Homo sapiens: one gene and its partners. The protein of the gene in region 5 interacts with the protein of the main gene of each other region in a biochemical or structural test. Each region holds a gene or a part of one and is shown on either strand. Other genes may lie near its edges. The genes, in order: MGMT, ERCC6, FGF2, HDAC6 and CSNK2A2.

The links.
Region 1: of the proteins of CSNK2A2 (region 5) and MGMT, one has a biochemical effect on the other in vitro, tested with the Homo sapiens proteins (one study listed by BioGRID).
Region 2: the proteins of CSNK2A2 (region 5) and ERCC6 form a complex in vitro, tested with the Homo sapiens proteins (one large-scale study listed by BioGRID).
Region 3: the proteins of CSNK2A2 (region 5) and FGF2 form a complex in vitro, tested with the Homo sapiens proteins (one study listed by BioGRID).
Region 4: the proteins of CSNK2A2 (region 5) and HDAC6 form a complex in vitro, tested with the Homo sapiens proteins (one study listed by BioGRID).

The regions. Positions count from the first base shown.
Region 1 is NC_000010.11:129,470,136-129,473,826, reverse strand, and holds part of MGMT (methylated-DNA--protein-cysteine methyltransferase), read right to left. Parts: intron 1-3,691. UniProt on the Homo sapiens protein: Involved in the cellular defense against the biological effects of O6-methylguanine (O6-MeG) and O4-methylthymine (O4-MeT) in DNA. Repairs the methylated nucleobase in DNA by stoichiometrically transferring the methyl group to a cysteine residue in the enzyme.
Region 2 is NC_000010.11:49,522,114-49,525,804, forward strand, and holds part of ERCC6 (DNA excision repair protein ERCC-6), read right to left. Parts: intron 2,665-3,691; coding exon 1,920-2,664; intron 1-1,919. UniProt on the Homo sapiens protein: Involved in repair of DNA damage following UV irradiation, acting either in the absence of ERCC6 or synergistically with ERCC6. Involved in the regulation of gene expression.
Region 3 is NC_000004.12:122,895,764-122,898,907, reverse strand, and holds the end of FGF2 (fibroblast growth factor 2 isoform 18 kDa), read right to left. Parts: 3' UTR 1,285-3,144; coding exon of another isoform or gene 1,230-1,284; 3' UTR 672-1,229; downstream 1-671. Other genes in the region: NUDT6 (nucleoside diphosphate-linked moiety X motif 6), read left to right, coding at 1,230-1,284. UniProt on the Homo sapiens protein: Acts as a ligand for FGFR1, FGFR2, FGFR3 and FGFR4. Also acts as an integrin ligand which is required for FGF2 signaling. Binds to integrin ITGAV:ITGB3.
Region 4 is NC_000023.11:48,805,011-48,808,701, forward strand, and holds part of HDAC6 (protein deacetylase HDAC6), read left to right. Parts: intron 1-427; coding exon 428-512; intron 513-620; coding exon 621-661; coding exon of another isoform or gene 662-665; exon of another isoform or gene 666-1,357; coding exon 1,358-1,454; exon of another isoform or gene 1,455-1,598; coding exon 1,599-1,696; exon of another isoform or gene 1,697-1,950; intron 1,951-3,022; coding exon 3,023-3,127; intron 3,128-3,247; coding exon 3,248-3,316; intron 3,317-3,691.
Region 5 is NC_000016.10:58,157,300-58,160,190, forward strand, and holds the end of CSNK2A2 (casein kinase II subunit alpha'), read right to left. Parts: exon of another isoform or gene 1,055-2,891; 3' UTR 608-1,054; downstream 1-607.

The DNA of each region.
Region 1 (3,691 bases), on a different chromosome or scaffold from region 5:
GGACAGCTTTGCCATCCCCAAGTCCTCACTGCACCCAGCCTCAGCTACGGCTCAACGCCTTCAAGCAGGAATACACTTGGGCGAATTGCTTTTCCCACAATGCTAAAGACAACACTTGGTCACATTGATGTTCAGAAAACATTAGCTACATAAACAGGTCTGTGTCTGTTTACACCCTGTCTTGCCCCTTAAAGGACTTCTAACAGCTTCTCAGGCTCATCGTTGCAAAGCCAGCCTGGCACAAGTGGTTATGAGCCTGCACTTGGTTATCAAATAAATCTGGGTTGAAAACAAAACTCTACCTCTATCCCAGGAGACCTGTGCAAGTCACTCAAACTCTCCGAGGCCCGGGTTCCTCATATGCAAAATAAAGACACTCACAGCGCCTTCTCCTTCATGGGGTGGTGGTGAGCCTTTCCTAAGTTGGTCTGTACAAGGCAACAAGCGCAGCACGCCCAGAATAACCACCAGGGTGAGCTGAACCATGACAGGAGATTAAGGAGACACCCCAAATAAAAATAAGGCCCATTTCCACAAACACACGAAATGCTGCAGACTTCCCATTTTTGACCAAGTTTACCCAGCGGACCTGCGTTACCCCTCACTGCTGTGATCTAAACGGCCGTCACACATGGGAAAATACTGTCACATGCTGGTGTCACTGCTGGTTCCTGGCCACTGCCATCGTGTCAGATCCTGTGTCCGTCCTTTGGGAAGTTCTTTCAATATAACAGATGAATAATGTCAAGGCTCCCAGTGTCTCGGGCTATCAGCAACTGCCAAGTGCCCCTAGGAGCACACATGAAGCCCACCTGCCCACTCTAGGCCGATGTGGCACACCTGAACCTTTAGAATGCTGCCACGTCGAGAATGTCTACTGTGAAAAGACAGAAGCAGGTGGCAGAGCCAGTAGCCTCTTTACAGACAAAAGGACTTCAGGGACCTAGTAAATGAATAGGGAACTACCTTATGCTGCACACAGACAATGCACTGTGACCTCAGACGCACCAGAGGTGGCAAATGTGGCCAAGTGATCCCGACCTCCAGTCCTGCCTCCACCAAAACAGAGCGACTCTGCATCCGCAAACACCAACCGCCTTCATTCAGGCCTCCCCAGCGCCAGGCCTCCTTCTGGATGGGAACTGTCCCTGGCCCTGCTTTTGGAGAAATCTGGCCTTGGAAGGTTAAGTAACTCTGCTCAAGGGCACAGGATTGTAACTTGTAAAGCAGGTCCAAACGGAAGCCCATCTGTTCCCAGAAGGTGCACTTCTGACCACCGTGCACATGCCCCCAGTGAGGGCTTGGGTGTGTGCAGATCTGCAAAATACAGATTCGGATTGGACTGGGGGGAAAACGAGGGCTCGAAATGGTTCTTCGCCGTCTTCTCGTTTCATCCTTCCGTGAGACTCAGCTCCAAATTAAAATTTCTATCCATGTAGTGGATAGAAATTTTACTTTTAAAAAAATATGTATTTACTGTCTCGTGTGCCTATACTTACCCGGGTAGACCGAATAAGCATAATCGTCCCCACCCAATGGATGAGGAGGTGCCTGGAGGGCTAAGAGTTGCCCAGGGGGACCCAGCTAGGAAACAGCATCACTCCCACACACGGCCTGGCACTTCCTGTAGAAAAGCTCAATTCAGTCCCACAAAATGTATTCAGCTGTGCCTCTGAAAGTGCACCCTCACCTGAGACCAGGAAAATGCCTTGACCCAGAGGGGGATTAAAAACAAGACAACCCTCTCAAAAGGAAAGAAGGGGTGAAATATGATACGGGTTGCCCGTGCTTCGCGTGTGTTTGTAAAACTGACGCCAAAGTTTTGGTAACATCTGCATCTTGTCATAACCACAAAACTGAAAACTCAAAAGCAATAATAACATGTTGGGTTTGCAATTTGAAGAGATTCACGTCTCTCAGGAGTTACAAAACCGTACTCAGACCCATATGCACAGAAAACCTGCAGCAATGCCAACTGCCGATGGATACTTCTGGAAGGGGGACTCGGATCTTGCCTGGGCTGGAGAGTGCTACTTCCCAGAGGATCCTAAGGCCTTCCCTAGAGGTGCTCAAGCATTAGGGTCTGCCAGAATCCCCTGGCATCCCCAGGTTCTGGTCCTGTAGGTCTCCCATGGGGCCCTGCAATCGAGAGACCTCTCTAGCCAGCACCCACAGTAATTCTGATGCAGAGGGCCCAGGTCACCCTCAAACGCTCCTCCACTGTTGCCTGTGAAGATCCCACTTTACGGAGAGCAACAGGTTCAAGGGGCTGTGACTCGTCAGGCCTTGCTGGAATCGCATTCCAGTAGTGGCTCTTACCCCACACAAGCAGGAGAGACACCTGAACATGATATCCCCGGCTGCCCACCGGAGTCCTCTTGACTGGGAAGTACAATGTAGCTAAAAGTTTAAAAACAAATGATAAATAACTAGCGATTATTTATTGCATTTCAACATATAATGCCCCATCTCCTTCTCTGCCCTGAGATTCATTCACTCTCTTCACCCACCTAAATATCTCTGAACATCCCGTGCCAGAATTGCCTGATCCGTCAATAAGGCAAGCGCTTTCTAAACCTCTATGCATATGACTCAATTTGTCAGTAAAAACTGCCACCCGCGCTGTGCTTGCAGAAAAATGTCCATAAACACATTATTGCGACTGGCAGAACGATGTCTATAATAAAAACACATAGATTTAACAAGTACCTCCTTTCACAAGCCACGCCGCTGGTGGACTATCCATTCGGTGTCCCCCAGCCCAGACTTCTGGGAATGGGCGGCAGGGCTGGGTGGGAGCCTCTGCTGACTTCGCAAGCATCACAGGTAGGAAATTATTCTACCAAGAAACTTTTAGGAGTAGGAGAGTGAACACACCAGGCATTTATTGCACTCTCACCATTCCTTTCATGGTTACACACACTATGACTAATTTAACAACCCTAAGAAAATGTTTTTGTAGAATTTTTTACTGGTTTTAGAACAGCTACCTCCAGGTGGGGTGAAGGGGACACGAGGCCTCCTTGGAGAACCCTGCTCTGCTGCTGAGCCACTGATTTAACTGAAAACAACTTGTGGTGTCAAAACCAAGTTTCACCATTCAGAGCATCCGCATGGGCAGCTCCCAGGGCGGCCTATTCAGTTACTTAGCTGGAGGAGCTTCGGGAGCGCAGGCTGCTGAGGACTGGCTTTGCTGCCGGGACCGAGCACCTTGGCAGGACTCAGTGTTTGATTCCTTTCCGGGTGATCCACACCTGCCAAAGCCACTCTAATACTTCAAAGATCAACAAAGTCACAAAAATGATTTCTTCCTCTTCATAAATCACTTCAATAGCTCTATGAAGAAGTCAGTCATTCATTACATTCCATACTATATTCATTAGTTTCCCCCAAACTATGCAGCCCTCCGATATAAGCTGTACTGTTAATTTTTTTAAGTCAAAAGAAAACTAGACTATGTCCACCAACCAGCAGATATGCAGCAGTTAATGAAAAGCCACAGAACACACATCTTGCAACATTTGGTCCACAACACAAGGTCTCCAACTTCTACTTACCTATGTCCAAGACAGGCCTGCAGAGCTAACAGCGTAGGTTCACAAAATCCTCATGCCAACCAAGGACCCTCCTGCACAGCTCAAACCTCCTCCCTCCCATATAAATCCTTTCACTTCAAAACAAGAGTGGGGCG
Region 2 (3,691 bases), on a different chromosome or scaffold from region 5:
TTTCTATGTTGTAAACTCTATGACTTTATTCTAATCATCCATCGTCAAACCACTGCTAAGACAAGCAACCCTAAAGGTCTTTCTGTTTCTCAAGGGAATAGCATTACCATTTCAATTAGTCTACAAAGATCAGCAATGAGTAACAAAATATAGAGAGACTGGCAGTTCTAATATGCTTCTCAATCCTGAGCATTTTATTTTCTTTCATCCCCCAAACCAAACAGCACCAAAGGAGATGTAATAACAAATATTTCAATGTGGATATCTGCAGTTTAACAGCCTTAATAACTGTAGCTATAAAATGTTAAGAGCTATCGTATTTTGGTGGCAATTAAGAGTTATTGATATTTCTGAAATTCATTTGAGATTTCACTGTAGCTTTAGCAAAATATTGGCTCTGGAAATAATAAATTGTTTTACAATCTTAACATTATTAAGAAAAACTTATTGCCATCAAATTAACTAAACCCACATTTAAAATTCAATCAAAATAAATTGCTCTTGATCAAAATACTGATATATTTTAAACATATTTAATATTGACCCAATTTAATTGGAAAAATATATATTGCTCCATTTATAATCAATATGTTGAGATTAACACTTTTATTAATTCCTTGCAGTAGTTAAGAAAAAGTCTGACACCGCTCACTGTTCAAGAGTACTGGGCAACATTCCTCAAACAACTTCACAGGTAATAAACGTGCACAGAAACGAAAGCTGTGCTGAGGGATGACAAATATAAGCCAGCCCTCATCTGTGCATTACTACATAAGGTGCTACTAGAATGTGAGTGCCGCAACTCTAAAGAACAGGATTTAAGTCACAGGTCCTCAAATTACTGTTTAAAAGAATTGACACATCTATTTCGGAAAGGTTATGGAATGTCTGTAGTGTCTGGACGGGGGTTAATGAGCAGTTCTAAGTAACAAGAAAAAACACCAGGTCAACCTTCACTCACAAAGGCCAATAAATACAACAAACTAGGTCTCTTCACCTTGAGAAATAAGAAAAAACTGTTGAGGATTGGGAAAAAGCCATCCCACTATCAAGTATTTTAAAAGTAATAAGGTTCCTTTTTCCCTTTGACTTCCTTAGAGCTAAGTGAGCTCTAAGTCAAGGAGACTTGAAATGCGCGGCAGTAGCACAGTGTTCAGTGGGCCACCATGGGGAGGCCTGCAATACAGATTATTTTTCCTGGCTCTCAGAAAACGTGTGGCAATATGCAATTCAGACTTCATGTTTCACATGTTCACCTTCCCTTTTATGGTGCTTGCTTTATACAATGACAATGTCATGGAGCTAAAAGCCAAAGTCAGTCTCTAACATAAAAAACAACAGTGAAAAGAAAGGTATGCTGTGCATACAAAGTACACTTTTTGCATGATGGTGGCTTATAATTATGCAGATGACTATTTTCTCAAGACAAAGGAAGGATTTACAAAAGCAAGCTTATTCTTTCTATGCCAAAGCTTAAGTTTCAGCTCTTTTTTGAAGAAAAGTTCTCTAAAATTACTTTCCTGCTTCAAAAGGGAAAACAGAAACCCCTATCCAGTATGCATTAATTCACCCTTTTCTTTTTCCTGATACTCATTCTAGGGTGACTGTCGGTATAAAGGCGACACAGCTCACACTCAGCCCTCTGTATGCCTCTTGCCCCAGCCTTCCCTTAAGTTTTTCATCTTAGACTTGCCTCCAAATCCAACTAAAGACCTAGAAGTACATGCATTTGGGGCCAGCATCATTAAGGACTCAGGGGCCCCACTGCTTCTAGCAGGTTAAGGCTGCAGAAATCCAACCTCTGTATAATCGGGGGGGTCTAATATATTAAGCTGGATCTAGAATGCTTACATATTAATAAACCTGTCACCTAAGATAAAGCAAACAGTACAATGTATTTATAATCCCCACAGACCGACCTTAACCGCTGCTTATAATAATCTTCATCTCCATCATCTCGGTATCTTCCCACTTTCCGACCTCCTCCTCCTCCTTCTCCTACAGAAGCAGCTTCAGCTTCTTCCCCAGAACTTGGGAAAAAGTCATCATCAATCTCCTGCACTGGCACTTTCTTCTGCCGTTTCCCGCCCTTGGGCAGAGGCTTCAGCTCATAGTCAGTACCATCTCCAGACAGGTCCGCCTCTGCCCCCTCCACCTCGTCATCTTCCTCCTCTTCCTCCTCCTCTGTGGGGAAATACTCAGACTCTTCACCCTCAGAGTCTCCCTCTGCCTCTGGCCTCATGTCTGACTCCCAAGGTCTCCTTGCCTTTGGCAATCCCACTTTCCCCTGGAACTGCAAAGCCCTCTTCTGGAGTTTCTTGATGTGCTTTTTCAAACGCTCCTCTTTTTTGGACAGAACTCTGGCTTTCTTGTTTGGTTTGTTTTTATTTTGCACTGGGGCTGGAGGCGTGACTGGGGCTGGAGCTTTTCTAGCTGCTCTTTTATTACAACCTTGCTTCTTCCTTTCAAAAGACAGTTTTGCTTGATCTGCCAAATACTTTTCGAAGCCTGATGCTTCATTAAGCATGATTTTTCTGGGCTTTTTCTCCTGTTTCTGAGGGATCTGGGTACCAAAAGGTGTCATCTGGCCAGTGCGGATGAGCTCTTCCCAGGCAGTCTCCTGGACAGGCATGAGCATGCTGCCAAGACTGGATGGCCCCGGCTCTGAAAGAACAATAGCAATGCGTTTCGCACTAGCATGAAACTTTCCGAGGGTACAAAAGAAATGCTCACTCTTTCAAGAAATATTAGGCAGCTACAAATAACTCATATAAAAAAAGAATCATCCATGTACTAAAGCATGTTACATATGAAGGACAGAATAAAATTATAGCATCATGCTATATTTAATATATTCCTGTTCAAAAAGACAACTTCTCAGTAACTTTTCCCCAAAATATTTCACTATAAATATACTCTCTGCCATCCAAAGATAGGCTTATTACTGTATAAATACAGTTATAAATAGTCAAGTTTAGCTGTGTTTCCTTATCAGCTGAGTAGTCGTCCATGAGGAAGCAAGCTCCGAAGTTCTCACGTCATTGCTAAAACCAACATTCAGATGGACTTAAATTCAAGAGACAGTAAAACCAAAAACAGGGATCACCATGTACCTAAAAAGGAAAAACATAAATGTCAGCTCTATGCTGCCCAGCATGGCAGTTACCAGTCACCTGCAGCTATTTAAATTTAAATTACATTAAGTTAAAAACTCAGTTCCACAGTTGCATTTGCCCTTTTTCAAGTGCTCAAGAGCTACACGTGACTAATGGCTACTATAATGGGCAACACAGAGAACATTTTCATCACTGCAAAAAGGTCTATTGGACAGCAGCACTGTGTTAGATATGTGAAGTTAACTGACTTGAAGACATTACACCATAAGTGTAAAGTCACCAGAAAGTATCCCTCTTTCATTAGTTGAAATTCATCTCTGGCAAAATTACCACATAACCAAAATACCAAAAGACCTAAGGCTTAATAGGAAGGAATCCATATTCTAAAATCTACAATTCTTGCAGGCCAATGATACCCAGTTTTTCATTAAACTTGCACTGAAATAAAACATACATCTGAAAGTGCACAAATCATTAAGTGTAGAACTCAGTGAATATTCAGAAAAAATGTACTCATAAACTAGCAGCCATATCAACTAACAGAATTACTAGCACCACCAGATGAGCCCTTCAGG
Region 3 (3,144 bases), on a different chromosome or scaffold from region 5:
CCCTGTCTCAAAAAGTAAATGGAATTTATGGTGGTAAAGTTCAACATCTTGTCAAGACAAAGACTGCATAGTTTCTGGAGAAATAAACCTTCTGGGAATATTTCCAAATGGAATCTAGAAGACAGTGCATTGATATAGAGGTATATTTACAGATATATTTCTACATTAATAAAGTAAAGCATAATATCCTTTATAAATTAATGTCAAGCCTAGCCCAGACACTGAAAGCCTGAATTCTGTACCCACATAATCAACAGTCTATGGAAACTCTGGGAACCATGCCACTGGTCTCCAACCTAGCATAGTTGAGAAATGACACATTCTTTTAAGAAGCATTCATCCAGGAAATGAGTGTGTCACAAAGCAAACCAGTAAAAGGACCATAACTTATTTTATGAATGAAGAATATAGGGTACTAGCCAAAGGTACAGCTCCCTTATGAGTATGTTATAATTTCTCATTCTTTTCTTTTATCACGTGATGGATAGATAGAACTCTAACAGGAAGAAAAGTAATCATGTCAGCCATAAGAATATTGTCCATGTCATCTCATAATTGTTTTTAATCCATTTTTCTATATTTATCCCTATTCCAAGATCAGATCTTTCCACCTGCCCCTCCCCAACAAAAAAAAAGAAAAAAGAATTCATAGACAAGAAGACACAAAGAAATGGGAGACAAGAAAACACAAACTAATCAATTTTATTCATACTACTCATGAAAAGCAATTACATTTTTACATAAAATCATTAACACATACAATAGAAATAATAAGAGTAATACATCTGATTAGAAATACAATATAGGAAATAGATTTTAAAATAGCATATTTTAGTGATGAAATTTATATTTTCTACTTATTTATAGCAGCATCTGTAAGATTCTTCTATCTGTTCATAGTTAACTAGCAGCAAAATATTTTAAATTACAGAAATTCAGTAGATGTTTCCCTCCAATGTTTCATTCATACAGAATGTATCACGTTAACCAAACAAAACCACTTATATTTCCTGAAGAGAAAAGGTGGGAAAAGATTTCATCAGTTACCAGCTCCCCCAAAAAAAGAAGAAACGAGGGAGAAAGGATGGAAGCTAGAAAAATTTTGCATGCAATTACTAAAAAATATATTCTCAACCACTTTGACCAATTATAGGTGGATTTTGTGAAATCTACATATGTGTGTGTTAGTGAAAGTTATGTTAACTTTATTTTCTGACTTTATACTGCAGTTGAAAAATATGTGGAAGTTTCCAGGAGGCCTGTCAGAGCCTGAAGAAGATATTGGTGTGTATCTTTTATATTTTTAATTGGCTTAAAAATGTTGAGGAAATTAATGTGTTTACTTTCTTGCTTTATAGCTAAGAATAAAAATTTAAATTTTCCAATTTGTTCCGACTGAGTCTGAACATTTCAGAAATTACCTCAGAGCTGATATAATTAGCAGCATAATTTCTAATATTACAGTTTATTCCATTAGTAGAAATAATATCATTAGGAACATACCACCTATTCTTCTGTTTATGACTGCTTCTGGATTAATCTGTCTGAAAATGAGAAGCTTTGGATATACATCAGTAAAGTTTAGCATTAAAGGTTATTTTGGATACGACTAATATTGTTGTTGGAATTAAACTATGAGAAAACAAATTCCTGACCATTCCATCACAGAGGATGAATAGTAGCCTTTAAATGAACTTTGAAATAAATATAATAAAGTCAGTTATAAAGCAGTGATTATATAATTCTTCACTTTATGAAAATTGTATCTACTATTTATTTTTAATAGTCAGGTAGTCAAAACATAGTAAAATGTCATATAAGAAAGTCTCAACTGAGAAATAATCCCCTAACACAACTTACTGAGCTCAGTATTTAAGACAAGGAAATATAAAATAAGCTAAGAATTATTTATGTCACTGATTTACAGGAAATCGAAAAATAGAAACCAAATTTTCCTACCTATTCCTTAAACTATTGGATCAAATTCAATGTGTATCATGACAAATCAATGTATTTGTTTGATACCAATATTATTTCTCCATGACCTTTTCCTTAATATGCATGTCCCCTATTCTATTTAGCCAACAATGATATTAAGGCAATTTTCTAAATTGTCTTTAAATATTTTATTTAAAAATGTCCATGTACTTAAAGCTTGATTTTTAAAACTTTTACACAAATCAAAATACCATACATACATTATATAGCCAACTCGTAACAATCCATCAGAAAATGGATTGCATTAAGATATATCTCTAGCCAATCTTGGTTTCAGGTACTTATTGACCTTTTGCTTAGTTTATGCTTATTCTTCTGTTGATATAAAAGATGATTTTGTAGTGGTGTGAATGCTGAAAGAGAAGGCCATTTGTTCTACAGCCTAATTCTCTCACACTATCCACTGGTGCCACGTGAGAGCAGAGCATGTGAGCTAATTAAGCTTATGTTTTGCAGCCTTACCCAATCTATATTGGGCAAAAAGCAGTCTGCAGGTTTGCAAGGCTTCCTCTCTCCTGCATCTTGCCTTTTCAAATAAATTGATTTTTTTCATGTGAACTCTTATGGGTCCTCTGAATTTCAGCTGTACTTACTTGTAGATGTAATTGAAGAAAAACACATTTCCAAGCCAAATATATATAATTTCAGGCCTAAGTATACTCCAGAATCCTTCTTAAAGTCCAGATGATTAAAAATTCACTACCTTTTTTTCTTTAAAAAAAAAAAAAGTGCTTGTGGTTGTCACAACAACTCACCTACCCAGAGATCATATATGCCTCAGTCATGTGGAATTAAGAAGAAAAAAACTGCCGTTGGCATTAGCCATACTTCCTAAGCTTAGTGTAAATTAAAGCTTTGCCTGAAAATTCATAAAACCCTGAAAGCAGCTAGAAATGAAAACTGACAGTAGAGGTCTGAAAGACTATGTCTATATGAAGGCATTTCTAACTCAACATAAAACAAAAGATATTCTTAATGATGAAGCTGAATCATCTAAGAATTACTGAAATTATTTAAACTCTGTATTTAGGAAAACATGCAATGTACTTTAGGAATACTGCCATCACAAACAGTTAAACATTTATATTGGCTCAAACAGTAAACCCTAGTTAACTGGGAAACACATTTGTTTGAACTCCTTCATTC
Region 4 (3,691 bases), on a different chromosome or scaffold from region 5:
AGCAAAGGAAAGAGGGAGGGGTAGGAGATGGGGTCAGAGAGGTGATGGAGGACAGATTGTTTAGGGCCTTCTGGGCATGGGTAATACTTTGGCTTTTACTCAGAATGGGATGGGAGCCTCGAAGGGACATGAACTGATTAGGGTTTTAACCAGTGTCTAGCTGCTATGCACAGAAAGGACCGTTGAGGTGGCGAGGGTCGAAGCAGGGAGGCCGAGGAGATGCCGCCACAGCCCAGGCGGGAGGGTATGGTAATAGCAGTGGCAGTGGTGAGGAGAGGGTCACACACCAGAGCTGATGGGAGGCAGGACTGACACCACAGTTTTGGGGTAAGCAGCTGTGGAAGGGTGGATGGGGAGATGTGGAGAGAACAGATGTGGAGCTCCCCAGTGTCCTCATGCATCTGTGACTGTGACTCCATCTCCCCAGCTTCCCGGAAGGCCCTGAGCGGCTCCATGCCATCAAGGAGCAACTGATCCAGGAGGGCCTCCTAGATCGCTGCGTGTCCTTTCAGGTAAGGCCCCCAAGCCAACACTCTGGGTGAAGGGCAGGGAGCTGACCTGACCTGGGTGCAGCCCATGCCTTAACCCTTTACCCCACTTTATTCCTCATCTCTCCCCAGGCCCGGTTTGCTGAAAAGGAAGAGCTGATGTTGGTTCACAGGTGAAGGCTTGGGAGCCTTGTAGGGATGGGGAGGAGCCTGCCCTGGACAAACCAGGGCAAGCTAAACGCTTTGGGAAGCAATGTCATGGTCTCTGCAGCCAGCCTTGGGCAAGTCGCTGAGCCTTTCTGAATCTGTGTCATCGCCTGTAACAAGGGGACCAGTAAACATAAGTTCCTCAGGAGAGTTTGATGTGTGTCAGGTGCTTAGAACAGGGCCTGATATATAATCAGCCCATGATGAGCTATTACTGTTATCATGATCTGATTGTGTGAATAGATGGTGGATGTGTGGACAGAGTGATCGGGGTTCCCCCAGGGGCTTCCAGATTTAGAGGCCTAGTGCTATGTGGCTTGAGGAAAGCTAGCTTCCAGAGCAGGTATCTGAGCTGAACTTTAAGAGGAGAAAAAGAGTGAGTCAGATGAAGAGGGTGACTGAGGGAAGGGAAGAACAGACAGCTGAACCAGTGTGGCCAAAGGCCTGAAAGTAGGATTTGGTGTGGCTACTGCAGGGGAGCAGAGAACATTACCTGAACTGAGGCGGGCTAGGGAAGAAACAGAATGTGTCTTATATCCTGGCTATTCCTTCAGGTTGACAGTTGGGGGAGCCAAGCCCTAATTTGACCAGGGGGTTGGTGTATGGACAGCTCAGTTGGGGAAGAGACAGGGCCCTGAATCTCATCTCCCATCTGTGTCTAGCCTAGAATATATTGATCTGATGGAAACAACCCAGTACATGAATGAGGGAGAACTCCGTGTCCTAGCAGACACCTACGACTCAGTTTATCTGCATCCGGTATGGATGAGAACTCTGCGGGCAGGGAATGGTGGCAATCTTGGGGTCCCCATCCCTATGCCCACCCCACCCTGGGGGAAGCAGCTGAGTGGATAGGGCTGTTCTCTCCCTTACTCCCTTTCTGGCTCCCCACTGTCTCTCCAGAACTCATACTCCTGTGCCTGCCTGGCCTCAGGCTCTGTCCTCAGGCTGGTGGATGCGGTCCTGGGGGCTGAGATCCGGAATGGCATGGCCATCATTAGGTAGGACTCTACAGCATTTGACTTTTTACATTGTTTTAAAGTCCTTCCTTCAAGTGTAAAATGTATTGATATGGGTAATATATTCATGTGATTCAAGAATCCAAAGGTAAAAAAGAGAATATAATTAAAAATCTGTCTCCCATCCTTGTCACCCAGACACCTGCCTCCTCTCATGGGAGGTAGTCATTGGAACCACTGACTCATGTGTCCTCCCACAAAGTCTTATTCAAGAAATAAATACCATATTTCATTGATTCTAAGGTGTACATTTTTTCATATTTGTAACATCTTGAAATCCAGATGCATCTTACAAACAGTGACATCTCAGAATTCCATTGGCAGTATTTTCTGCTTCGTTTTTGGCATGTAAAATCATGGTACATCTTATCATCATTGGCATCCCAGAACTGATGAAATGCAAAAGCTTTCTCCTCCCTCCCCTGTTTTTAACCACAAATGGTAGTAACATGACATACTCCCTTCGTACCATCTTTTCACTTACACATCTTGGAAACCTTTCTCTAACAGTATGTATCTTGGAGCCCGGTAGAACACCATTGTGTAAATGCACTCTATGTTAATCAGTCCCCGACTAATGGGCATTTTGGTTCTCCCCAGTCATTTGCTGTTTTAAAAAAATGCTACAGCAAATATGCTAGTACCTTTATAAAAATAAAATTTTATTTTACACTAACATAAAATAAAAATGTTACTTCACCCTTTTTAAAACACAGGTTGTGGGCTAAGTTCCTGCAGCAGAATGACTGGGTATGAGAATGAATGCGTTGATCATTTTATTTTTATTTTTATTTATTTATTTATTTTGAGACGGAGTCTCGCTCTGTCACCAGGCTGGAGTGCAGTGATGCAATCTTGGCTCACTGCAACCTCTGCCTCCCAGGTTCAAGTGATTCTCCTGCCTCAGCCTCCCAAGTAGCTGGGACTACAGTCGCCCGCCACCACACCCAGCTAATTTTTTGTATTTTTAGTAGAGACGGGGTTTCACCGTGTTGGCCAGGATGGTCTTGATCTCTTGACCTCGTGGTCCACCCACCTCGGCCTCCCAAAGTGCTGGGATTACAGGCCTGAGCCACCGCACCCGGCCTTTATCATTTTAGTGAACATTTTCAAATCTCCTTTGGAGACAGAGGGGTAGATTGGCAGGGGGTGAGAGTTTGAGGGCCTCCATTACTCAGTTCCCGGCAGATTTTTAGGCATCAGCATTAAAGGAATTGGTGGTCCAGGATTAGAGAGCAGGGGACAGTCTGTCTCTGCAGAGGAGGACCCCTCACATACTCCAAGCTGTTATTTCCTTGTCTTGCCCAGGCCTCCTGGACATCACGCCCAGCACAGTCTTATGGATGGCTATTGCATGTTCAACCACGTGGCTGTGGCAGCCCGCTATGCTCAACAGAAACACCGCATCCGGAGGTCAGCAACAGAGGGCAGATGTGATGGGGGTGGCATGGGGTGGGGTGTCCTGGTCTGGGCTCTTCCCCCAGATTCACCTTGATCTCCTTGCACAGAGTCCCCTCTCTCTGCTGCTCCTAGGGTCCTTATCGTAGATTGGGATGTGCACCACGGTCAAGGAACACAGTTCACCTTCGACCAGGACCCCAGGTATACCCCGACTCCCACCTAGGTGCTAGACTCCCAGCCACCTCCCACCCTTACAGGCCCAGCCAGAAGGGGTCCAGAAGGAGGAAAAGGCATTCACATTCATGGGGCCTATCCTGGGATCAGGATCTGTGCTACTTTTGTGTGTCTGCCATCTCTCCTAATTTCACTCTGAGGCAGGGACTGTTGGGTTCCCTATTTTACAGATAGGGGGACTGAGGCTTATACGTTAAGAGGTCACACAGAGAAGAACTGGGAGAGACGGGATTTGACCCACAAATATTTGAAGATCTTATTCACTGATTAACCGTTGGGTTAGAGTGAACCTCAAATTACTGCTTTATTTTTTCTGATTAGGATAATGCTTCAAAGTGTTTG
Region 5 (2,891 bases):
AAGGAGAGGCCAGGGAGGATGCTGGCCAGTTGGAATGTGTTCAAGGCAAAGCCCCACTTTCCTGGCTGAGTCTACTTCAGCCATCCATATTGTCCCCATTCCTAGGACTGGTTCACTGTGTACCTCTTAACACCACTCAGCTCTGGAAGAGAGTCCTTACAAACGGGCCCTCCTTGGCTGAGTGTGGTGGCTCACACCTCTATGTAGACCCAGCACTTTAGGGGGACTAGGAAAGAGGATCACTTGAGTCAGGAGTTTGAGACCAGCCTGGGCCACGTGGCAAGACCATTTCTACAAAAAAAAAACTTAAGAAAACTTGTCAGGTGTGGTGGCATGCACCTGTAATCCCAGCTACTCAGGAGGCTGAAGCAGGAGGATCACTTGAGGCCAGGAGGCCGAGGCTGTAGTGAGCTATGGTTGCGCCACTGCACTCCAGCCTCCATGACAGAGCAAGACTGTTTAAAAACAAAAATGAAAACTGGCCCACCTTGTCCCAGGGACCTCCCCTGCTTCGTCTGGTTAGAACCTGGCACGAATGCGCTTTTGTCTCATCCTGAGTCACAGGCCTCAGTTCACGGCCCTTTCCATACTGAAAACTCTCCATACGTTTCTTTTAAAACCTTTTATTCAATAATATATACTTTTAAAATAATAATATGTAACTGCCGCCATGCCACATACTGCGCCCGTCCCCCCACTGTGGAGTCTGTGGTCAGCTAGTTAGCGTGGTTTGCTGGAAAAACAGGCGGCCACGGGACGAGTCGAGGGGCTCGGGGAGCAACAGTAACCAACAACATTCTGCATACCCTTCACATTCCCCATGCTTTCTGGGTCGGGAAGAAGTCAACAGGAAGCCAAAGGCAAGTGAGCCTTTTACATTCGGAAGTGAGGTTTGATATACGGTGGTGGGCTGCCCTTCGCTTGGTCTAGTTCGTGCTCGCCAAACCTGCCACCGTTTTGTGTCTGCTCACGGAACGTGATCTCTCTATACGCGTTAAGACGTTTGATTTGGTTCTTGTTCTGCTTATGGAAAAGTGGGAGAACCGCAACAGACCTGGGGAAAGAGACGGGAGGAGGGAAAGACGTCATTAATCAACCTGAGCGGGCGAGGGGAGGCCTCCACGTGTAGGAGGGCCTGTGCTAGAATGCAAGCTCGGCCCTCCCATGCCACTTGGTGGAGAACCCTGTGAGAACTCGCTGAGTTCAGGTTTCCAACAGTACCCTCTGCCTTCCTCTTCTGATTATCATGACAGAGATGGTCTCTAGCACGGCCTTCTGTCACAGGACGGGTGCTCTGGGCACCACGTGTGTTGTGACCAGGTCTTCCACTCTACCCCATCCCTCGGGTCCAGGGTGCTGATGGAGAAGCCTCAGAGCCTCTTGACCATTCTGTGCCAGTCAAGCTACAAATTCAGCAGTCAGCTCTAGGTCCCCCTCAGACCTGACCTGATTATCTGAGGTGTCTTAGGACTAAGACGGGGTCTGTATTTACTCAGAAAAAGGGCTGAGTCCACTAATAAACAAAGAGCAGTAAGTGAGCTCAAATATTTTTAACTCTCCCCTGGAAACAGCTAGCTGCCTGGCATGGCCTGAAAACCTCATTTCTCCTTCCAGGTCCAGCATAGCAAGTGGGTGGTGAGATGCCGGCAGTGGAATTCTAGAAGCAGTGCCTCCCAGAACAGCACTACAGTACTGAGGAAGGACTATGCACCTGGGAAGCTGTCACACACACAAAATCATTTCATGAAAACTTTCTTTGGGTAAAGGAAGGGTTCCACTGCGTAGTATTTGATTTGAGAAGGGCTGCATGGTGCATGAGGTTAAGAAAGAAATGACTATATTTGCCTTTAAACACTTCAGCTGATTCCAAGCACCCAACTTCAGAGGCTCAGTGAGAAGAAAGCACACTAATTAAAGAAAGCACATTAATTAAAGATACCACCACCTGCCAAATAATAGCATGTGCTGCAAGGAATGGGGCTAGGGAGAGTGTTTCACAAATGCAGAGCACCAGGCCACAAGGTTAAAGTCATGCACTAAAACAGTCAATCCCAAGAGGCAGGTGTCTGAGTGGCGCGACTCAGAAGCAAGTACATAAAAACGGAACACTCCCAACAGGACACCACTCTAGCCCCACTTCTGCCAAAGGAAAGTTTTCACATCAAGGTGTAACACACATCTTTGCAATTCAAGGTTTATCCCTCCCCTCTCCCCCAAAGAGACAGGAAATACAAGTTAAGGTCCTCATAGCAATGGTTTGTCTCCCACTTGGGAAGGCTGGTTATTGTCAACATTTTTATTTAAGAAAACAGGATTTAACATGGCATTTTTCTTCCCTCTAAGGGCAGCAGCACATAAATCATACATCAGTCATCCAGTGATACAAAGAGGTGGCCAATTGTGTCTGAAGTAGTCACTTGTAAAGGATCACAACCCAGGCAGTGTTGCTTTTCTGCAAACAGAAGGAAACAGAAGGCTCCATGGTCCTTGAAGATTATCCAAGTTTTCCACTAGTTGTCAAGATTTCTGTCCCAACCTCTTAGTCACCATTTACAGCAAGAAGAGCCAGCAAGTGAAAAACTGTTAATTTATTGATTCAAAGTTGTTTTTTTTCTTTTTAAAAAACAATCCCCAATACATGCAGTTCAGGGTTAAGTATCACATTTGTAGCACATTGTTGAGTCTCAAAACAAAAATATGCATCACCTGTATAATCCCATCACATCTTTTTCCAGCCTCTACAATACCTAGTTGGGGGTGTTTTCATTTATACATCCACATAGCTCAGAAGCATGTTATTAACGGTTGATCTGGCCCGATGCTTCTCCGCCACCTCCCCTGCCCTGGTCTCCACCTCGGGGTTATTTTTTTCTAAAGGCAGGATGTTACTC